Homo sapiens: one gene and its partners. The protein of the gene in region 2 interacts with the protein of the main gene of each other region in a pairwise test. Each region holds a gene or a part of one and is shown on either strand. Other genes may lie near its edges.

Region 1 (5,488 bases), on a different chromosome or scaffold from region 2:
GTCCGTCCGCGGGTTCCTGGGCTGTCTCTTCATGATGTCGCTTTCGGCAGCCTCGTACGCCAGTGAGATGGCAGGGACCTAGGCGGAGGAGGCCGGGTGAGCCGGAGAGGGGAGGACTCCACCCTCCTGGGCCCCAAGGGTGGCTGCCAGGGCTCACCATGTCAGTGCCCAGATCGATGCAGAGGATGGTGATGGTGCCCAGGGGCAGCGGGATGTTGGCCATGATGAACAGCAGGAAGGGCGTGATCTCCGGGATATTGCTGGTCAGGGTGTAGGCAATGGACTTCTTTAGGTTGTCGAAGATCAGGCGGCCTGTGGCACAGGCAGGCTCAGAGCAGGCGCCCATGCCAGGGAGCCCCACTCCCTCTGCCCCTCCTCTGCCCTCATCCAACGTCCTTTTTTTTTTTTTTTTTTTTTTTGAGACAGAGTCTCGCTGTGTTGCCCAGGCTGGAGTGCAGTGGTGCGATCTCGGCTCACTGCAGGCTCCGCCTCCCGGGTTCACGCCATTCTCCTGCCTCAGCCTCCCGAGTAGCTGGCACTACAGGCACCTGCCACCACGCCCGGCTAATTTTTTTGTATTTTTATTAGAGACGGGGTTTCACTGTGTTAGCCTGCATGGTCTCAATCTCCTGACCTCGTGATCTGCCCTCCTCGGCCTCCTGAAGTGCTGGGATTACAGGCGTGAGCCACCGCGCCCGGCCTGTCCAGCGTCCTTTTCTACCCCCCAGCCCACCCACCATTATTTTCTTTTTGGGACAGGGTCTCACTCTGTTGCCCAGGCTGCAGTGCAGTGGCATGATCACGGCTCACTGCAACCTCGACTCCCAGGCTCAAGTGATCCTCCTGCCTCAGCCTCCCATGTAGCTGAGACTACAGTCACGCGCCACCACGTCCAGCTAATTTTTGTATTTTTAGTAGAGACAGAGTCTCACCACTTTTCCTAGGCTTGTCTAATTTCTGGGCTGTGATTCCATCTCAGCCTCCCGAAGTGCTGGGATTACAGGCATAAGTCTCCACACCTGGCCCCTCACCCACCTACCTTTCCACATAAACATCCAACCACATCGCCTTTGTGGAAACATTCTTGAAATAACCACTTTGGAAGATGGTTTCGGAGTTGCTATCAAACATCCCCCACCCCACCGACCGAGTAATCCGACTCCTAGGTTTTATACCCAAAAGAGAGGAGGACTGTTTATGCCCAGCGAAAAGCAAGTACGAGAATGTTCACCATAGCACCACTCATCAGAGCCAAAAGCCAGAGTCAACCCCATGTCCATCAACAGGTGAGGGATGAATAAACCACGGTACATCCATGCAGTCAAATACTACACAGCAAGAAGGGGCGAGCTACGGACACAACTCCACAGCTGGACCTTGGATCCCGTGCTGAGTGACACGAGCCAGACACAAAAGCATTCTTAGCATCCAACTCCAACTGGAGCAGGCTCAGCACCCGTCTCTGGGCTAAAAGTCAGGATAATGGTTATGTCTAGGAGGAGGGATATAGACTGGAAGAGAGCAGACAAAACCTAAATGGGGGGCTGGAATGGTTTTCTATCTTGACTGGGGTCTGGTGGTTGCATGGCTGTGTACATGTGTAAAAATTTATACACCCTGTCTGGTTGAATATTTTAATGAGATATAATATGCCCAACTCACTGTATGCATGCCATATCTCAATAAATATTCAACCAGTACAGGTTGTCTAAAGTAAACAAAATAAAGATTAATCCAGGCCAGGCGCTGGGGCTCACACCTGTAATCCCAACACTTTGGGAGACCGAAGCAGGAGGATTGCCTGAGATCAAGAGTTCAAGACCAGCCTGGCCAACATGATGAAACCCCATCTCTACTAAAAATACAAAAATTAGCTGGGCGTGGTGGTGGGCACCTGTAACCCCAGCTACTTGGGAGGCTGAGGCAGGAGAATCATTTGAACCTCAGAGGCAGACGTTGCAGTGAGCCGCAATTGTGCCATTGCACTCCAGCCTGGGCAACAGAGCAAGACTCCATCTCAAAAAAATAAAATAAAATAAAATAAACATTAGTCAGGCACGGTGGCTCGAGCCTGTGGTCGCAGCTACTTGGGAGGCTGAGGTGGGAGGATCACTTGAGGAGGTCGAGGTTGCAGTGACTGATGATTGCAGCACTGCGCTCCAGCCTGGGCAACAGAGTGAGACCTTGTCTCTAAATAAATAAATAAGTAAAAAGATTAGCCCATGAACAATGAGGTCAATCATTAAGAAAGAACAGGCGGGCACGGTGGCAAACACCTGTAATCCCAGCACTTTGGGAGGCTGAGGCGGGTGGATCACGAGGTCAGGAGATCGAGACTATCCTGGCCAACATGGTGAAACCCCATCTCTACTAAAACACAAAAAATTAGCTGGGAGTGGTGGTGTGTGCCTGTAGTTCCAGCTATGTGGGAAGCTGAGGCAGAAGAATCGCTTGAAGCTGGGAGGTGGAGGTTGCAGTGAGCCAACATCACGCCACTGCACTCCAGCCTGGCAACAGAGCAAGACTCCATCAAAAAAAGGGGAGGGGAGGGGAGGGGGAAGGAAGGAAGGAAGGGGAAGGAAGGAAGGAAGGAAGGAAGGAAGGAAGGAAGGAAGGAAGGAAGGAAGGAAAGAAGGAAGGAAGGCAGGCAGGCAGGGACGGAGGGAGGGAGGAAGGGAGGGAGGGAGGGAAGGGAAGGTGAAGCAGGCTGCCTGTGGTGTGGCTTCTTTGATTGCTTTGATGTCTCTTGCATAGCAATAAGGGCCTGGGCCGCTCCCACCTGATATTCTCGTTCCCTGCATTGTGCTCTTCTCCACAAACTAGGGGTTTCTCATCCTAAACTATTTATGGATGAAATGGTGACAAATGTGCATCAGCATAATCCAGTGTGTGTTCCAGGTGGTGGGGAAGAAACAAGGTGTGCCGTGCGCTGACTGCCGCTGCAGGTGGGATGGAGGCGCAGGGGCCCACTGTGCCTTTGCTTTACTTTTGGGTATATCTGGAATGCCCCCGTTGGAAGTTATTTTGTTTGTTTGTTTGAGACAGGGTCTCGGATCTCGCTCTATCCCAGGCTGGAGTGCAGTGGCACCATCATGGTTCATGGCAGCCTCGACCACCCAGGCTCAAGTGATCCTCCTGCCTCAGCCCCCCAAGTCTCTGAGACTACAGGTGTGCAACACCACGCCCTGCTAATTTTTAAAATTTTTTGATCTTTGAGGTCTTAATTTGTTGTACAGGCAGGTCTTGAACTCCTGGGCTCAAGCGATCCTCCCGCCTTGGTCTCCCAAAGTGCTGGGATTACAGGCGTGAGCCCCCGTGCCTGGCCCCTGACGGAAGTTAGGTATTTCTTCCCTCACTTCAGAGAGGCCTTCCCTGTCCACCCCATCTGGGCAGGACCCTCACTATTATCTATCACAGCGGCCTGCTTTCTTCGGGGCATATATCACAATTTGTAATTACATATCTGTTAACTTGTTTAAGGCTGTCTCTCCAGCCCTGTGAGAACAGGGATGGTGTCTGCTCTGCTCACAGCTGCCTCCCAGGCTTCCAGCATGATGCACAAGATTCGGAAGGAGCAGACGGCTGTATCTGAGACAGTGTGTGTACTGTGTATGCATAGATGTCTTGGGGAGGCCAGGCGTGGTGGCTCATGCCTGTAATCCCAGCAAATTGGGAGGCCAAGGTGGGAGGATTGCTTGAGCCCAGGAGTTGAAGACCTCGCTGGGCGAGGTGGCTCACCCCTGCAATCCCAGCACTTTGGGAGGCCAAGGTGCGGGGATCACTTCAGGTCAGGAGATCAAGACCAGCCTGGCTAACATGGTGAAACCCCATCTCTACTAAAAATACAAAAATTAGCCTGGTGTGGTGGCATGCACCTGTAATTCTAGCTACTCGGGAGGCTGAAGCAGGAGAATTGCTTGAACCCAGGAGGTGGAGGCTACAGTAAGCCGAGATTGCATGCCTGTACTCCAGCCTGGGTGACAGAGCAAGACTCTGTCTCAAAAAAAAAGAAAGACTAGTCTGGGCAACATGGCGAAACCCCATCTCTACAAAATCTTAAAAATCAGCCAGGTGTGATGGTGCATACCTGTAGTCTCAGCTACTTAGGGGCCTGAGGCAGGAGGATCGATTAAGTCCCGGAGGTGGAGGCTGCAGTTAGCCGTGATTGTGCCACTGCACTCCATCCTGGGTGACAGATTGAGACTCTATCCCCGCCCCCAGCCCCCAAAAAAAGATGTCTCTTGGGAGATAAGAAGGTGTTAACCATGGTTTCCTCTGGGATATAGGAGACAAGGGCTGAGGACATTTAATCTGTTACTCTGGGCTCGGCTTTGCCGTTTGAATTCTCTTTTACCATGAACTACTTTTTACACCAGAGACATTTCAAATAGGAGAGAGAAATTGGAAGAAAATCCACCAAGGCATGAACCGTGATTATTTCTGGATGGCGAGGTTACGGGTGATTCTACTTTTTTCCTGAATGCTTTTCTGCATTTGTCTATGATTATCATGAATTAATTTGATGATCAAAATAAATCTGAATGTGAACCAACCCTTCTGTGGCCTTGTCTGGGCCTGTCAGGAGGTGGTGCCTGTCGGCTCAGCAGCACCAGCCTCAGACCCAGCCCCTCACACCGCCTTGCCTGTGTACCGGTTCCTCTGCCTGCGACTCCCTGGCACTAGTCTATGTGGACGTCACAGCATGGCCCCTGACTTGGCTCAGCCATCCCTGTCCACTCTGGGAAGCTCCCTTGACCCCCAGCCCAGGCTGGCAGAGGGGGTATCCCCCAGGGTCCCTGGCTTCCCCCTGGTTGGGCTTGAGAATTTTTTTTTTTTTTTGAGACGGAGTCTCGCTCTGTCCCCCAGGCTGGAGTGCTGTGGCGCAATCTCAGCTCACTGCAACCTCCACCTCCTGGGTTCAAGCAATTCTCCTGCCTCAGCCTCCCGAGTAGCTGGGACTACAGGCAACCGCCACAATGCCCGGCTAATTTTTTGTATTTTTAGTAGAGACGGGGTTTCACCATGTTAGCCAGGATGGTCTCGATCTTCTGACCTCATGATCTGCCTGCTTCAGCCTTCCAAAGTGCTGGGATTACAGGCGTGGCTGCCGCCCCTGGCTGAGAATATCTTTAAAAAGCCTCCAAGTCAGCTTCACCCACCAGATGGGGCCTGGGCTGGATGACGCAGGGACCCTGAAGTGTGTCAGCTCAGTCCTGCCCAGGGGAGCTCCCGACCCCACAGGGGAGGAAGACAGAAAAGGACAGGCTCAGGCTCCTCCAGGGCCAGGGGGCCTGTGGTCTCTGCCACACATCCCCCTGCAGCCCTGGCCAGTTCCCCTTGCTGGTCTCAGGCCTCCGGTAGTGACCCTGGTCTCCAGGGCCACCCCTGGCCAACTCACCCTCCTCCACCCCTGTGACGATGGAGGCAAAGTTGTCGTCCAGCAGGATCATGTCAGCTGCCTGCTTGGAGACGTCAGAGCCAGCGATGC
Region 2 (5,488 bases):
ATGCAGCAGACTACTGAATAAAGTCCAAAACTCAAGCTTGTCACCTGCAGCCAAGTTACTAATTATATTTCAGATATGTTGAGTTAGATAAAATATATTTAAATTAATTTTACCTATATCTTTTCTCCCCTGCTCCCCTCAGGCTTAGCTCAGCTGAATTTTTGCCTATTTTAATGTGGCTATTAGAAAATTTGTAATTATTTATGTGACTTGCATTATATTTCTGTTGGGCAGCACTGGTCTAGATTCTCCCTATGCTTTCATACCTAGCTCAAATTCCACCTCTTTTTTCATGAAGAGTTCTCTGATTTAACCAGCGCCTAAAAATAATCTATCCCGGCCGGGCGCAGTGGCTCATGCCTGTAATCCCAGCACTTTGAGAGGCGAGGCGGGCGGATCACAAGATCAGGAGATGGAGACCATCCTGGCTAACACGGTGAAACCCCGTCTCTATTAAAAATGCAAAAAATTAGCCTGGTGCGGTGGCGGGCGCCTGCAATCCCAGCTACTCGGGAGGCTGAGGCAGGACAATGGCGCGAACCCGGGAGGCAGAGCTTGCAGTGAGCTGAGCGCCACTGCACTCCAGCCTGGGCAAGAGTGACAGACTCCGTCTCAAAAAATAATAATCATCATCATCATCATCATCTATCCCACAGCCCTTTTACCTGCACCTCTCATAAATCACCTATTACTTTCTTCTCTGAGATACAACTATTAATGTAATGTCTGTCTGAGTATTGGCTGTTAAGGATAGTATTGATGCTAAATAAATGACTTTTCACTAGACTGTGAACCAATTTTTTAAAAAATAGGGTAAGGGGAATATGAAGAGTTTAAAAACATTCAGTATTACTTCTGGGTGTGGTGGCTTACGCCTGTAATCCCAACACTGGGAGGCTGAGGCCGGTGGATCACCTGAGGTCAGGTGTTCGAGACCAGCCTGACCAACATGGTGAAACCCCATCTCTACTAAAATACCCAAATTAGCTGGGCATGGTGGCACAGGTCTGCAATCCCAGCAACTTGGGAGACTGAGGCAGGAGGATTGCTTGAACCCAGGAGGCAGAGGTTGCAGTGAGCTGAGATCATGCCACTGCACTCCACTGCACTCCAGCCTGTGTGACAGAGCGAGACTCTGTAAAAATAACTGGGAGGCTGAGGCGGGTGGACTGCCTAAGCTCAGGAGTTTGAGACCACCCTGGGCAACATGGTGAAACCCCATCTCTACTAAAATACAAAAAATTAGCTGGGTGCAGTGGCGGGCACCTGTAGTCCCAGCAACTCAGGAGGCTGAAATGAGAATTGCTTGAACCCGGGAGGTGGAGTTTGCAGTGAGCCGAGATTGGTTCAGTGCACTCCAGCCTGGGTGAAAGAGCAAGACTCTGTCTCAAAAATAAATAAATAAAGATAAAAATAAAAAACATTCAGTATTATGACCCCAAAAACCACAGTGTTTTTTTTTTGTTTGTTTGTTTTTGTTTGTTTTTGAGATGGAGTCTCACTCTGTCACCCAGGCTAGAGTGCAGTGGTGCAATCTCAGCTCACTGCAACCTCCGCCTCCCGGGTTCAAGCGATTCTCCTGCCTCAGCCTCCCAAGTAGCTGGGACTACAGGCATGTGCCACCATGCCCCCCTAATTTTTGTCTTTTTAGTAGAGACGGGGTTTCACCATATTGGCTATACTTGTCTCAAACTACTGACCTTGTGATCCACCCACCTCAGCCTCCCAACCAAAGTGCTGGGATTACAGGCGTGAGCCACCGCTCCCAGACAGAGTGTTTTCATAATACAAACTACAGAAAGCTTGACAAAATCTTCAGTGAAGTGAATGCAGCCATTTCAACAGGGAAACTTGTTCCCTTAAGGGCATATCACAATCTCTGGGAAGACATAGATTTCTAAGTTTATCCAAAGGAATCAGTGTTTCAAAAGATTAAAGTACTGCTTAGAGCACCACACTACAGTCTTCTCATTAGTGCCCAGCAGCACATGTGCTCTGAGCCTTGAGTAGCAGAGAGTAATACAACAATAAGTAAAATGTATTCCCTACCTTCTGAAAGTTCACAGTCTAGGAGGGACTACGTAATTGTTTATTCACTTAGTATTTATATCCCACTCTGTTCTAAAAAGGGATTAGAACTGGCTCACACTTAATCAGAAATAACTTGAATGCAAGAGAGATGGGGACAAATGCACATAAAAGGAAAGTGAAGATGAGAGGATTCTATTAAGGTTGGTGCAAAATTAATTGCAGCTTTTGCCATTAAAAGTACTTGAGCCCAGGATTTCAAGACCAGCCTGGGCAACATGGCAAAACCCTGTCTACAAAAAATACAAAAATTGGCCGGCTGCGGTGGCTCACACCTATAATCCTAGCTCTTTGGGAGGCCAAGGCAGGCGGATAGCTTGAGCTCAGGAGTTCAAATCCAGCCTGGGCCACGTGGTGAAACCCTGTCTCTACAAAAAATTAGCCAGGTATGGTGGCACACACTTGTAGTCCCAGCTGCTTGGGGGCTAAGGCAGGAGGATCGCTTGAGCCCAAGAGGTTTGAGGTGCAGTGAGCCCTCAAGATTGCACCTGTCTCAAAAAAGAAAAAATTAGCTGGGCATGTTGGTGCACAGTTGTGGTCCCAGCTACTCAAGAGGCTGAGGTGGGAGGATCGCTTGAACCTGAGAGGTCGAGGCTGCAGTTAGCTGTGATCATGCCACTGCACCAGCCTAAGTGACAGCAAGACCCTGTCGCAAAAAAAACAGAGTGCAGGCCGGGCGCGGTGGCTCACACCTGTAATCCCAGCACTTTGGGAGGCCAAGGCAGGCGGATCACGAGGTCAGGAGATCCAGACCATCCTGGTTAACAACAGTGAAACCCCGACTCTACTAAAAATACAAAAAAATAGCCGGGCATGGTGGTGAGCACCTGTAGTCCCAGCTACTCAGAAGGCTGAGGCAGGAGAATGGCATGAACCCAGGAGGCAGAGCTTGTAGTGAGCTGAGATCGCACCACTGCACTCTAGCCTGGGCGACAGAGCGAGACTCCATCTCAAAAAAAAAAAAACAAAAAACAGTGCAGATAACTTCTAGTCCCTAGCATGGGCCTGAATGAATGAAGAATGGAGAAAAAATTGCGTGGCCCCAAAGAACAAATTTTTCTTCCTACATGTGACACTATCTTTCAGCCCCAAAGACCTTGGACTCTGGCCACTCTTTCCCCAGGTTAAAAGACCTCAGTTCTTTTCATGCCCAATGGGCCTACCCTGTACTGCTGCACCTCTTCATCTCGTTTTTGCCTCACAAGTGCGATCTGGTCCTCCAGGTTCCTGTTTTGCAGGCGGAGCTGCCGGGCCTCTGCTTGCAGGGGTCTCAGAGCCTCCTTCATTTCCTGGATCTCAGCCTGGGTTCTCTGCAGAGCTTTGGTCCCAGCTTCTTTCCTCTCTAGGAGCCGCAGGAACTGAGGCTCATACTCCTCCTCCAGGTCCTGGCGGCTCTCTGCCATGAGATTTTCAAACTGGGCAGAGAGTCGCCGGCTTTCCTGGAGAAAGTGCCCATCCCTCTGGCTTGGAGGGGCTTCTAGTTGTTGCCGCAGCTGCTCCTTCTGCTTCTGATAGGCATCCCGGAGCTGGGCCAGTTCCTCTGAGAGCTGGGTTGCCCTTGTAGTCAGCACTTCCCGGAAATCGGCAAACTGAGCCACGTCCTGCTGGCGGCACTCCAGCTGGTATTGGTAGGCCACACATTCCTTTGTCACTTTGAAAAGCTTCTGCTTGACCAGCCGGATCTCCTCCCTTAGGCCATCTCTCTCCAGCTCTGCTTGGGCATGGAGCTTGTAGGCAGCCAGGATGTCTTGATGGACTTGCTGTACCTCCTGCAGGGCTGGTTCCCGGAGCAATACAAGCTCATGGATGAGCTGATCCCTCTCCTCTTCCAGCTGGGCCACAGCTTGGACACACTGCTGGAAACGCCCCTCTAGCAATTCCAGGTCCTCTATGCTCAGGTTCTCCTCCATGCTGGGGCTCTGCTCGGCTCTGAGGCTCTCCTCAGGGTTAGATTTCTCCGCCCTTGTGACTGTCTCTCCCTCATAAACAACGTGCTCTGGGCTTGTGGGCTTTCCTGGCTCCACGGGCCCCTCCACAAACTGTATCCGATCTGGCTCCGTGGTTTCCTCCACACACACTGTCTCCTCTGGATTCCCAGGCTCCTCCACATGCAGAGCCTCATCTGGCTGCATGGCCTCCTCAATATACAGGGCCTCCTCTGCCTTCTCAGTCTCTTGCACATAGAGTGTCTCATCAAGGTCACCTGTGTCCTCCAGGTAGAGAATGTCTTCGAGGTTTAAGGACCCCTCTGAAGATAGAGTAACTTCTGGGTTCAAGGCTTCTGCCTCATTTAGGGATCCAGAGTTCTTTGGAAGAGGAGAATTGGCCTCTACTCTTGTTTTCCTGCAAAAGAAATGATTGAAAGTGAAAGGGCAGCCACAATCCCAGGATGGTGCAATTCTGGAGCCAGCAGCCATGGGCCTAGACTACCTCAGGTTCTTAGATGTCAGCAGCCATTCGTCTGCTCCCTCCACTCTGTCAATCCACCCCTCCACACACCCAACCACGGTGTAGATCCCCTGCCAGCATCCCAGCGACATCACCATATGGTCTCTGCTTATGCAGCTCCAAGGACTCGACATACCTGAGGCACCACTGTTTGTTCCACAATTATAATAATTTTTTTTTTTTGAGATGGAGTCCCGCTGTATTGCCGAGGCTGGAGTGCAATAGCGTGATGTCGGCTCACTGCAACCTCTGTCCCCCAGTTCATGCGATTCTCTTGCCTCAGCCTCCCAAGTAGCACCACCACGCCTTTTTTTTTTGAGACGGAGTCTTGCTCTGTTGCCAGGCTGGAATGCAGTGGTGCGATCTTGGCTCACTGCAGCCTCCACCTCCCAGGTTCAAGTGATTCTCCTGCCTCAGCCTCCTGAGCAGCTGGGATTATAGGCACACATACCACCACGCCCGGCTAATTTTTGTATTTTTAGTGGAGATGGGGTTTCACCATGTTAGTCAGGCTGTTCTCAAACTCCTGACCTCATGATCTGCCCGCCTCGGCCTCCCAAAGTGCTGGGATTATAGGCATGAGCCACTGCGCCCAGCCCAGTTCTAATAAAATTATAATGTTGAGGTAAAACCTTCCTTATAACTTTTTTTTTTCTTTGAGATGGAGTCTTGCTCTGTCACCCAGGCTGGAGTGCAGTGGTGCCATTTCAGCCTCCACCTCCCAGGTAGGTGGGACTACAGACACGTGCCATCACACTCAGCTGATTTTTGTATTTTTAGTAGAGATGGGGTTTTACCATGTTGGCCAGGCTGGTCTCAAACTCCTGACCTCAAGTGATCCGCCCTCTTCAGCCTCCCAAAGTGTTGGGATTACAGGCATTGAGCCACCATGCCCAGCAATTCCTGGTAACTTTTAGCCACTGGATTTACCTGATTCTTCCTTCTAGGATCA
Region 3 (4,849 bases), on a different chromosome or scaffold from region 2:
TCCTCCCACCTCAGCTGAAACTACAGGCAGTGAAACTAGAGGCAGTGCGACCACACCCAGCTAGTTTTCATATTTATAGTAGAGACAGGATCTTGCCATGATGCTCAGGCTGGCTTTAAACTCCTGGGCTCAAGTGATCACTGGCCTCAGCCTCCCAAAGTGCTGGGATTATAGGCTTGAGCCACCACACCCAGCCTACAATGATTTTCTTCACAGTATTTTTTTAAAATCAAGGTGAAAGTTTTACAGTCCCTTGTATATGGGATATTTTCGATGCATATTAGCTATTAAATAGTACAAGAGGCCGAGCGCAGCCAGGGTGACAAGAGCAAGACTCCGTCTCATAAATAAATAAATAGTACAAGAGTATTTAAAATGCACACACACACAAAAAATACAGAAATGAAGTGCATCAAAACCTTTATTTTTGTGTAGAAGAACATCTCCATTAAGTGATTTTATTTCCTTTGTGTTTTTCTTTCCTTGCTGAATTTTCTGCATTAACAAGTATTACTTCTGTAACAAGAAGAAAAACTAAATATTTGAGAATAAAAAGTATTGCCTTGATTATGCTGGCTACTAACCGTGGTTAAATAGGTAATAATTACATGTTTTGTACTAGTGATTCCATCCACTCTCTGGTCTGTGTGAGGGGGCCCTCATCAGACTTGGAGAGAACTAGGTATAGTTGGGAAAGTTAATTATTGCATTTGTTTTTAATGGCATTTAACTTTTTATTTTTAAGACAGGGTCTCACTCTGTCACCCAGACTGGAGTGCAGTGGCACAATCATGGCTCACTGCAGCCTTGGCCTCCTGGACTCAAGAGATCCTCCTGCCTCAGCCTCCCAAATACCCGGGACCATGAGCATGTGCCACCATGCCTGGCTGATTTATTTTTTGTAAAGACAAGGTCTCACTATGTTGCTCAGGCTGGTCTTGAACTTCTGGATGCAAGCAATCCTCCTGCCTCAGCCTCCCAAAGCACTGGGATTACAGGTGTGAGCCACCACATCCAGCCTTAACTTATTTTTAAAACTTCAAATAACAACCAAGAAAAGGGCATACGATTTTATGTTCTTCAAAAATGGGGCATACTAGTTTTAAAAAGGCAAAGACATACTGCTGTAGGGTCAACTTTTTAAAAATGTGCTATGTCACAATTCAACTAGTGTCCAAGCCAGCTAGAGAATTTAAAGGACTTATTTATAGTCAGTTAAATCAGTGATGAAATAGGTAGGAATGGCCTTAAAACCAGAACAGGAGGAAACAACCTAATACAATTCAGCGTTGGGTTTTATGGAACGCAGAATTATAGATCACCCAAGTGCTGAACACGTGGAGTTACGTGTGTTAGAAACTTCTTCCTGGAAATTCAGCGACCCTTCTGAATGTCTTTATAAGAAAATCAGCTTTTTGCACCGCCCTCTCAACCCCACCCTCAGAATTTCTTATGCTGTACAACACAAAACTTCTCCTGTTCTCACAAAGACTTCGTACACAGAAATCTATTTCTGCTTGGTGTTAGCTAACATTTATCTGAAGCCGCAGGACAGCTGAAAGGGTTGTTGGTTGGTTTTGTTTTCTAGGTTTATTTCTGCACAATTTTCCTTGCACAGCTACAATCTTATCTGTGGGAAGAGGAAGAGACACCATTTGCAGGGCTGTTAGCTTCCTGTGCTCTCAGAAAAGAGTGAAGCAGAAAGAACCCAAAATAATCCACTATAACAGATTGGCTTTTCTCCTTTTATTCATGAACTATTTGAATTTAAACCACACAGGTCAAAATGACCAAAGAGTTGTTTTTTGTTTTTGTTTTTGTTTTTGAAGAGATTGTTCTTTTTAGGTTCAAGATACACAGGAAGAGCAATTTGTACTGATGTTGCTACTGGTTTAAAGAAAGGTCTCAGTTACCATCATCTTAATCGGTAAAATTTAACATTTCACACATAATAAGTTGCCAAAGGAACACTCAAACAGCAAAAACAAACCTCAGCTTCTTTCAAACAAAAAAGAAGAAACAATGTTTTGGCCCTGCTTCATCAAACCTTTAGACAAATACGTAAGTCTACAATTTATAATAGTGTCTAGTAATTCTTAGAATTCCATTAACATTACATATCAGACAATATAGTCTCTCTTTTATGGAAAATTAAACAGTACCATTATTTGGCAACAGAAGTATATTACAATCAACAGCACATCCATCAAGGGGCGGGCCTGGTCCTACCCCTGGGCAGGGCTGTGAGGGAAGCAACATGCCACCAGCACTGTGGCCCGCTTGTCACTGGAAGCACAAGGAGCTCACGTTCTGATGGATTACATTCTTTTCCAAACAGGCAAAGGCTATCTGGGAGGGTTCGCTAGCACTCCTGGGAAGGGAGGGCCCCATGTTCTAGCTTTTCTTGTCCCCAGACTTTTTTGAAACAACCAAGGCCCAAGGGACAGTTGACTGGCTGACTTGTTTCCACTCACAGCCCTCTTGCCACCCCAGCCAGAGGGCATCGTTCTAAGGAAGGAGAGTCAGGGCCTGTTTGGGGTTGGTAGACCAGAGCTCATCTCCTCTGCTGGCAGGCCTTAGGTGGCCTTCCAAGGCTGCGCCTGAACAAAGAAATCTCTGAACAGCTCCATCTTTGGGAATAAAGCCAGTTATGGACCACATGGACAGTGCCTCTAAGTGATTTGCAGATTATTCATGCACCTAAATAGATTCCAGGAAGCTTCCAGAAATCACAGCTTCCCATACTCCTGAAGTCAGCAGCTTTACTGGTTCGGGCCTCTCAAAAAAGGGGCTCCAGTTGCTGGTTGACAGCATTAAGATGCACGCAGCCTGTTCAAAGAAATGTTGAAAACCTAACACATTCTTCAGATGTCTTTTCAGACCACAGGCCCTCAACCTTCCACCAGCGGTGTCACCCCCAAACACAATGCATTCAGATCACCAGAAACCAGCTCTTTTTGTTACTGCAGTATTTCCAGGCTGCCAGGGGAGGCTGGACTCCTGGGGTTGCCCCCTCCTGAAATCATTTCTGAATGCCTTTCTCAGGGGTTTAGACATTGAGTTTCACAGAATCCTCCTTAGGTGGCCTAAGGGGCACTTCTGGTGGCCAAGTACAGAAAGTCTGTGCCCCAGAAGCAGCCTGGACTTCTGATCCTTTTCTGGGAATGCAGACGGGAGGAAGGCATCTTCCCCCTGGGGTCTCCATGGAAACATGGGCATCCAGAAGCCTGCCCCAAAACGGCTTAACTCAGAAACCCTAAACCATCCATCCACCCACCTGGCTATGCAACAGTTGAAGACAGTGAGGATGCATCAGGAAATTTCATGGAAAACGCAAACGCTAATTAGGGATAAACTGAATCAATCCAGATACAGAAGTAGAAAGGGCGACCTGGAAGTCAGAGAGTGGCCTCTCTAGTGGGATAGCTGCGTCAGCCCCAGATCCCTAACAAATCCACTAGAACCCAAGGAAGCCTGCGTGGCACATGGATCTGATGAAAAACAGGCTCCCTATCCTCTCATCCTTCCTGACACAAGTACCCTCTCAGATATGTGATCTGCAAAAATCCATTTTTAATGCAACACCAAGGTCCCATGCGAGGTCATAGCTACAGGATACTTTTCATTTGATCACGCCACCATCCATTACACTGAAATTTATCATATTTCCTGCAGGAAAAAAAATGACTCATTTGATTTCTAACATATACAACTTGGAATTTTTTTTTAATATAAGAAATTTAGTTGAGTTGAACCCAAGTAATCTCATTAAGCATTTTCTACTCTTGGAATAGGTTTTAAATTTTTTTCTATAGTTTTATGCACTTAAATTAGATTCCTAAAATACTCTCATATACATACAGAAAAATAATCTCTCAATGACAAATCACATTTTACAATAACAAGTTAAATATTTTTGACTACAGAATCTGTGTTAGTTTATGCAACATTTAACAGCATGGCCTCTTACATACCATATATACATTTAGTCATGGCCATTCCATAAACATACAGCAGAGATTTCATGAGGAACATGAAATGAATACAACCTTTTCCCTTTATATAGTGGGAGTTCGCCTTTTTCTTAGCTGGAAACAGCACAGAATGTAGAAAACCGGAAACTGAGCTGATTATCATCCACAGGACATTTTTGTTGCAGTTTCTCATCTGTACACATGTATTTACACATAAGTTCACCACCTATACGTGTGAGGGTACAAAGCTGATGGAGCTAAGGCAATACAACACGGGGTGGGCAGGGGCCAACTCCCCTATCTATGCAGGGCCACCAAGGGATAAGAAGGGTCATGGAGGGCACAGACTCCGGCTTGCGGGGCTACAGCAGATGAGATCTGAGGTTGATTTCACAGTTCAAAGATACTTGGGCTATTGGCCATGTAGGCTTTAAATGCATGTCTAAAATTAAGTAGCATTAACATAGATCTTGCTAAAATATCTACTTTCTGTCACAGTGAATGTTTAGCAGATGACATTTTAAGGATATTGATTTATAGAATGTACCTCAAATGTTCATTCATTAAAACTAATGCTGACACGCTATTAATGAAATGCCCCTGGAGAACACTTGCAGAACTTCCCGTAGTCCGGAAGATTGCATGACGCATGAAAACAAAGCCATAATTTGTTATGTCATTCAAGGTGACTCAATCAAATCCAGGTGAGATGAGTTTGCAATTTCTGTCAACATTTTTACTTAGCAAATATAATCCCAGACAGAATCAGGAAACATAGTGAGGATTATTGCTCAATGTATATGGAGATGGGGACCTACTTGCAAAAAGCAAATGGAACTGCAAACATTTTGGAGCGTCCAGCCCAGGAAAAGTAA
Region 4 (5,488 bases), on a different chromosome or scaffold from region 2:
CAAATACAAATGAGCAATTTTTCCATCAATCATGTTGATGAAGAGAAAATCGATGTCTGATATCTAAACTCAGTGAAGATTTGGGAAAATGGGCACACTCAAACCCAGGGAATACAAACTGGTTCAACTACTTCAGAAATAAAATTCAAAAGGCAGGCTGATCAACTGAGCACTTAAAGGAAATACAACCCAAGAGGAGAAATGGACACATGTCAAGATGTTCACCCATCGTCACTGGTAATACTGACAATCAATCAGTAACTAAGTAAATTATGGTACAGTCACATGTCAGCTCCCTTTTGTGTGAAACAATCCAGTACAGTAATATATCTAACAATTATATACATATGCATATATATATATACAGGGTTCTAGAAGAATATTCATTTAAGTTATAAGCAGTAGAATTACCAGTGCTTTTAATTTTTGTTCTTTTTTTTTTGCATTTTTAAATTTTTCTACATTGGTATACCATATTATGTTTATAATCTGAACAAAGTTTTCTTCATTTTGATAAAAAGAATTAATCAGTAAATAACAAGGCCTAAACTATTAAGACAAGTTTACTCCACTATTTAAAGTAAAAGGAATTAACACTTCAGAAAATAGTCAGAATTTGAATATTAGAAATATACTTTATATTCTGGAAAAAAATCCTGAAATGTATTGTTTTCAAACTTAAAACATATAAATTAAATTTCAAATTAAATTAGGGTAGTTGGCCAGGCGCAGTAACTCACACCTGTAATCCCAGAACTTTGGGAGGCCGAGGCAGGTGGATCACCTGAGGTCAGGAGTTCGAGACCAGCTTGACCAACATGGAGAAACCCCGTCTCTACTAAAAATACAAAATTAGCCGGGCGTGGTGGTGCATGCCTGTAATCCCAGCTACTCAGGAGGCTGAGGCAGGAGAATTGCTTGAACCCGGGAGGCAGAGGTTGCGGTGAACCGAGATCATGCCATTGCACTCCAGCCTGGGCAACAAGAGTGAAACTCCATCTCAAAAAATAAATAAATAAATAAATACATTAGGGTAGTTATGATCTTTTTCCATAAAATAAGTTACTTTCACTAATGCACTTTATAAAGCATGAATCTGAGAGTCCACATTCACATTCACACACATGCATACAATTGATATGACACACAGGTATCTAAGGCCATTCCTCACCTGCATCACTGGTGGAGTCACCTAAAGAAAAAGCACATCAGAAAATTAGCTTTCGTGTAGTCAACCTCAATACATTAAATGATGAGAACAGAATTGGAGAAAAAACACACTGTACATAATTTTGGATGTCTGCTAAGAAAAAAAGATCATTTCCTCATAGCCGCTTTTCTAATGTCCCTATTGCCATTTTGTTTTATTTTCAAAGATAGAAAAACAAAGAGCAAACAAACTGTGCATCATAAAATGGTACTAAATAGAAACAGGACACAGGGATGTGGAGAAAGCACATCGGAGAGGAAGTTAACAAGTTCATGAGACAAGAATCGACAAAGCCAGAGCCACAGAAAAAGTGCATCCAAATGTGAGGGAACGATGCAACAGTCTGAACCCGGCCAACCAAATCCCGGGCCGTTCCAAAGACTGGGAGACAGTCAACAACAGCCCATCTTATAGACATGATTGGTAAGCATTTTTCCATCAGCTCCTGAAAGCAGAAGAAAATCTTCCAGCTCAACAGAGGCCCACCTCTGCACCTTCACCCAGGATCCTTTTTCTTCAAGTGTTGTCTTGAGGACAAATGTGACCTAAACGGTCAAAGTAAATGAGCAGTGGCACCACAGGGGTGGGGTGATTCAAAACCACAGGTGGGAAATCTCTGTTTCACACTCTTAAGATGCACGAACGCATTTGCAGAAGAGCAGAAAGCGCATGGATTCACATGACAGCCCAGCACACTATACGGCAGAGAGGAGGCAGCAGGGCCTGATGCAGCGCCTCGTTTAACACGGCCCCGCCTCAGACAGGAACAGTTCATGCAGCCTCGAGAAATCAGCCTGGGTTATTGTGAGGGTCCACACCGAGCAGAGTGAGGAGCACTCTACAGACACCTCTAGCTCGTTTATTCACAGGAGGACTTTCTGTGAGCATAACAGCCACGAGCTCATAAATGCTGCCTTAAGAGGGTGGCTCTGGCAGGGAGAGAGGGGGCCAAGCTTGTGGATCAAGGGGAACCGGGAGGCTCTAGAGGACTCTATTAGTATGGGCCTGAGAACCTCCAGAGGTCACACCCCACAAAGTGCCACAGCACAGGGGGTAGCCTGGCACCCACCAGGGCCTAGGGGACTGGAGGGCACAGTGGTTAGCAGGGGGCTGGAGAATGTGGTTCCAGATAGTGCCACTACAAGGGCAGTTTCAGAGACCCCAGCACTTTGGGCCAATGGGGGCAGAGGACTCAGCTCAACCCTGGGATGGGACTGCTGGGGACCAAGAGCAGGTGGCAGAAGATCTTTTCCTCATGGCTGTGCGGCCTGGAGCGTGTGCTTAGCAGAAACCAGCACTGAGAGTCCTCGTGCGACCTGGGGGCAGGCAGCAGACACAGTTTCAAATCCCCGGCTCTTTCTTCAAAACACCAGGGTGTTAGGAACAGACCCTGGATTAACACAGCACTCAAAAAGGTGCCTGAGAGGTGCAGTTATTCAACCACAAGGCCGATACCCAGAAGGAAAGTCAGCACAGTGAACTCTCTACCTTTCAATGGATACTTCCAGTCCCCGTTACCCAGAACCCAAGGCACCTGCCACATGGCCCACACCATCCTCCCCGACGCCTGTGCTTCCACAGCGCCAGTGCTCTGCCAGCTCCTGCACTCACAATCTCGTCCTAGGTGACCCAGTCCCCACCCAGGCTCCTGCCATCACCCAGCGCCAGCAACTCTCACAGCTCCTCTCTAGCCTGGGCCTTCCCTCTACGCTCCAGGCCAGCTCCCCCAGCACGTGCCAGCAGCCCTGGAATCCTACCACTTCTCCCCTCCCAGGGCGCCTCCACAGTCCAGGCCTCTCTCTCTTCTCTGCACAATCTTTAACCCTCCCTAATTAACATGGCCACTCTTTAAAATCTAAATATCATTATACTGCTCCTCCTAAAGATATAATTAGCCTCCCGCTGCTCTTCCAATAAAGGCTAAACTCCATAAGCTGGCACAGGGACCTGGCTCTGGCCCTTCCTCTGGGCTGAGCCAGCCCTGCTGCAGTCGCATCCCAGCCGGGATCTTGGTTTATACAGCCCCTTCTGCCCTGCAGGCTTTCTGGGCCACCCTCACCAACCAAGGCCCCTCCCGTCCCAGACTGCCACCCCATCAAACGATTTCGGTTGATCTTCGAGCCTCATCTGCACCAGGAAGGCAGGAGGCCAGCCTGACTTCACTGGCTCATGCGCTCCCAGCCTCAGGGCTGACATGCAGTAGGCCTTCAACAGATAATTTTCTGTTTGAACAAATCAACAAACATCAGCCCTCCCCTGGCCACACCCCACCCTGCCGCTGCCACCTGCACAAGCCTTGGTTACCTGGGCACTGGTACCCTTGCAGGCCTGTTAGGAGCTCCAAGGCCTCAAAACACAAACATTGAATGGCTATTTTACCAAAGTTTTTTTAAAGGCTGAGAAAATTTATGGTGAAAGTAAAATCCCACTGAGGTATAATTCAACACTCAAAGAAAATGACAGACAGAAAAATCATGGTGGCCACAGCACTGTGACCATGAAGTCTGGGGGGTACACCTCTTGACTGGTGGGGCTCTCCAAGTAGTGACCCCGAAACTTTTCAGGGACCACTCATGACACCCCCCAAGTGATGAAACATGCCACCTCCTCTCACTTACAGAGCACGGGGGAGCACACGAGTGGGTCCCATGCTATCAAGAAACCACCATGTTCGATTCTAGTTTATGCAAAAAGGCAGAAGTGAATCACTGTGAATCACTTGCCACGTTCAGACCCAAGAGGAAAACCTCGGGCTCTGGGCTGCGGCCCTTTGAGAAGAAGGTTCTGGAGGGCTCACTCTGCTCTCGCCAGGAAAGGGCGAAACTGGACCATTCTTACCTTTCTGCTTCTCTGTGGGGTTGGGCTGAATATTCTCACACCGCAGACTAGCTGAATTATCATCTGAAATACTAGTTGAGTTAATATTAGCTTCTTTTGTTCCTGACATAAAACAGTTTAAAATTAGTCATTAAGACTGTACACCAAAGGGCCGGTGATCAGCGGCTTCATTAACATAGAGCACACTTACTTATCTATGTTTTCCCACACTGCAAGTTAGGACTGACAAAGGACTGACCAAAGGCAGCTTTTAGAAAACATGCATCTAGAATGTTCCTCCCCCATGGGCGGCTCTGGGGTGAAAGGGAAAGGACACCCCAGACTATGAGTGGATCCTTGGTCTACTCAGGCCAGGAGGAGCAGACTGCCCCCGCCCCCCATTTCTGGAGCTACCTGACACTGCCAGTCTCCACTCACCTCCCCAGTAGAGCCAGACCCAGCAGCTGAGAGGCTGCAAGTAGGCGGCTGTTTCAGGAATGCAGGAAGAAAAGAAAAATATTTTGGACACAGTGCACAGTCCTGGCCATATTGAAAACTTCCACATATTGTCTACTAATTACTGACTGATGTTCCAAAGTTTATGAAGATAGAAAAAATATCAAATACCTGAGAAAATATTTTTGCTGTGAAAAAAAAAACAGGCTGGGCACAGTGGCTCACACCTATAATCCCCGCATTTTGGGAGGCCTAGGTGGGAGGATCACTTGAACCCAGGAGTAAAGACAACCTAGGTAACACAGAGAGAACTCGTCTACACAAAAAAATATAAAATTTAAAAAGCTAGCCAAGCATGGTTACACACACCCGTAGTCCCAGCTACTCAGGAGGCTGAGATGGTAGGATCACTTGAGTCCAGGAGTTTAGGCTGCAATAAGCTGTGATCACGCCACTGCACTCCAGCCCAGGGCAAAGAGTAAGACCCTATCTCGGGGAAAAAAAAAAAAAAAAAAAAGGCCAAGCACAGTGGCTCATGCCTGAAGTCTCAACACTTTAGGAGGCCAAGGCAGGCACCAGCCTGGGCAACATAGCGAAACCTCATATCTACAAAAATTAGCTAGGCATGGTGGCAGGTGCCTGTAGTCCCAGCTACCCAGGAGGCTGAGGCAAGAGAATCACGTGAGCCCAGGAGGTCGAGGCTGCAGTGAGCCATGATCATGCCACCACTCTCCAGCCTGCATGTAAGAGCGAGATCATGTCTGAAAAAAAAAGGGTAGGAGCCAGGTGTGGTGGCTCACGCCTATAATCCCAGCACTTTGGGAGGCTGAGGCCGGTGGATCATGAGCTCAAGAGAGCGAGACCATCCTGGCCAACATGGTGAAACCCCATCTCTACTAAAAATAGAAAAATTAGCCGGGTGTGGTGGCACATGCCTGTAGTCCCAGCCACTCGGGAGGCTAAGGCAGGAGAATCTCTTGGACCCGGGAAGCAGAGGTTGCAGTG

What was found.
Region 1: the proteins of SYNC (region 2) and ATP1A3 interact in binary tests that used the Homo sapiens proteins (3 or more experiments, as listed by UniProt).
Region 3: the proteins of SYNC (region 2) and ITSN1 interact in a two-hybrid assay, tested with the Homo sapiens proteins (one large-scale study listed by BioGRID and IntAct).
Region 4: the proteins of SYNC (region 2) and TRAF3IP1 interact in a two-hybrid assay, tested with the Homo sapiens proteins (one large-scale study listed by IntAct).

The regions. Positions count from the first base shown.
Region 1 is NC_000019.10:41,970,231-41,975,718, forward strand, and holds part of ATP1A3 (sodium/potassium-transporting ATPase subunit alpha-3), read right to left. Parts: coding exon 5,399-5,488; intron 313-5,398; coding exon 158-312; intron 79-157; coding exon 1-78. UniProt on the Homo sapiens protein: This is the catalytic component of the active enzyme, which catalyzes the hydrolysis of ATP coupled with the exchange of sodium and potassium ions across the plasma membrane.
Region 2 is NC_000001.11:32,691,614-32,697,101, forward strand, and holds part of SYNC (syncoilin), read right to left. Parts: intron 4,432-5,488; coding exon 3,252-4,431; intron 1-3,251.
Region 3 is NC_000021.9:33,896,744-33,901,592, reverse strand, and holds the end of ITSN1 (intersectin-1), read right to left. Parts: 3' UTR 1,732-4,849; downstream 1-1,731. UniProt on the Homo sapiens protein: Adapter protein that provides a link between the endocytic membrane traffic and the actin assembly machinery. Acts as a guanine nucleotide exchange factor (GEF) for CDC42, and thereby stimulates actin nucleation mediated by WASL and the ARP2/3 complex.
Region 4 is NC_000002.12:238,343,159-238,348,646, reverse strand, and holds part of TRAF3IP1 (TRAF3-interacting protein 1), read right to left. Parts: intron 4,847-5,488; exon of another isoform or gene 4,593-4,846; coding exon of another isoform or gene 4,466-4,592; intron 4,151-4,465; coding exon 4,049-4,150; intron 1,193-4,048; coding exon 1,172-1,192; intron 1-1,171.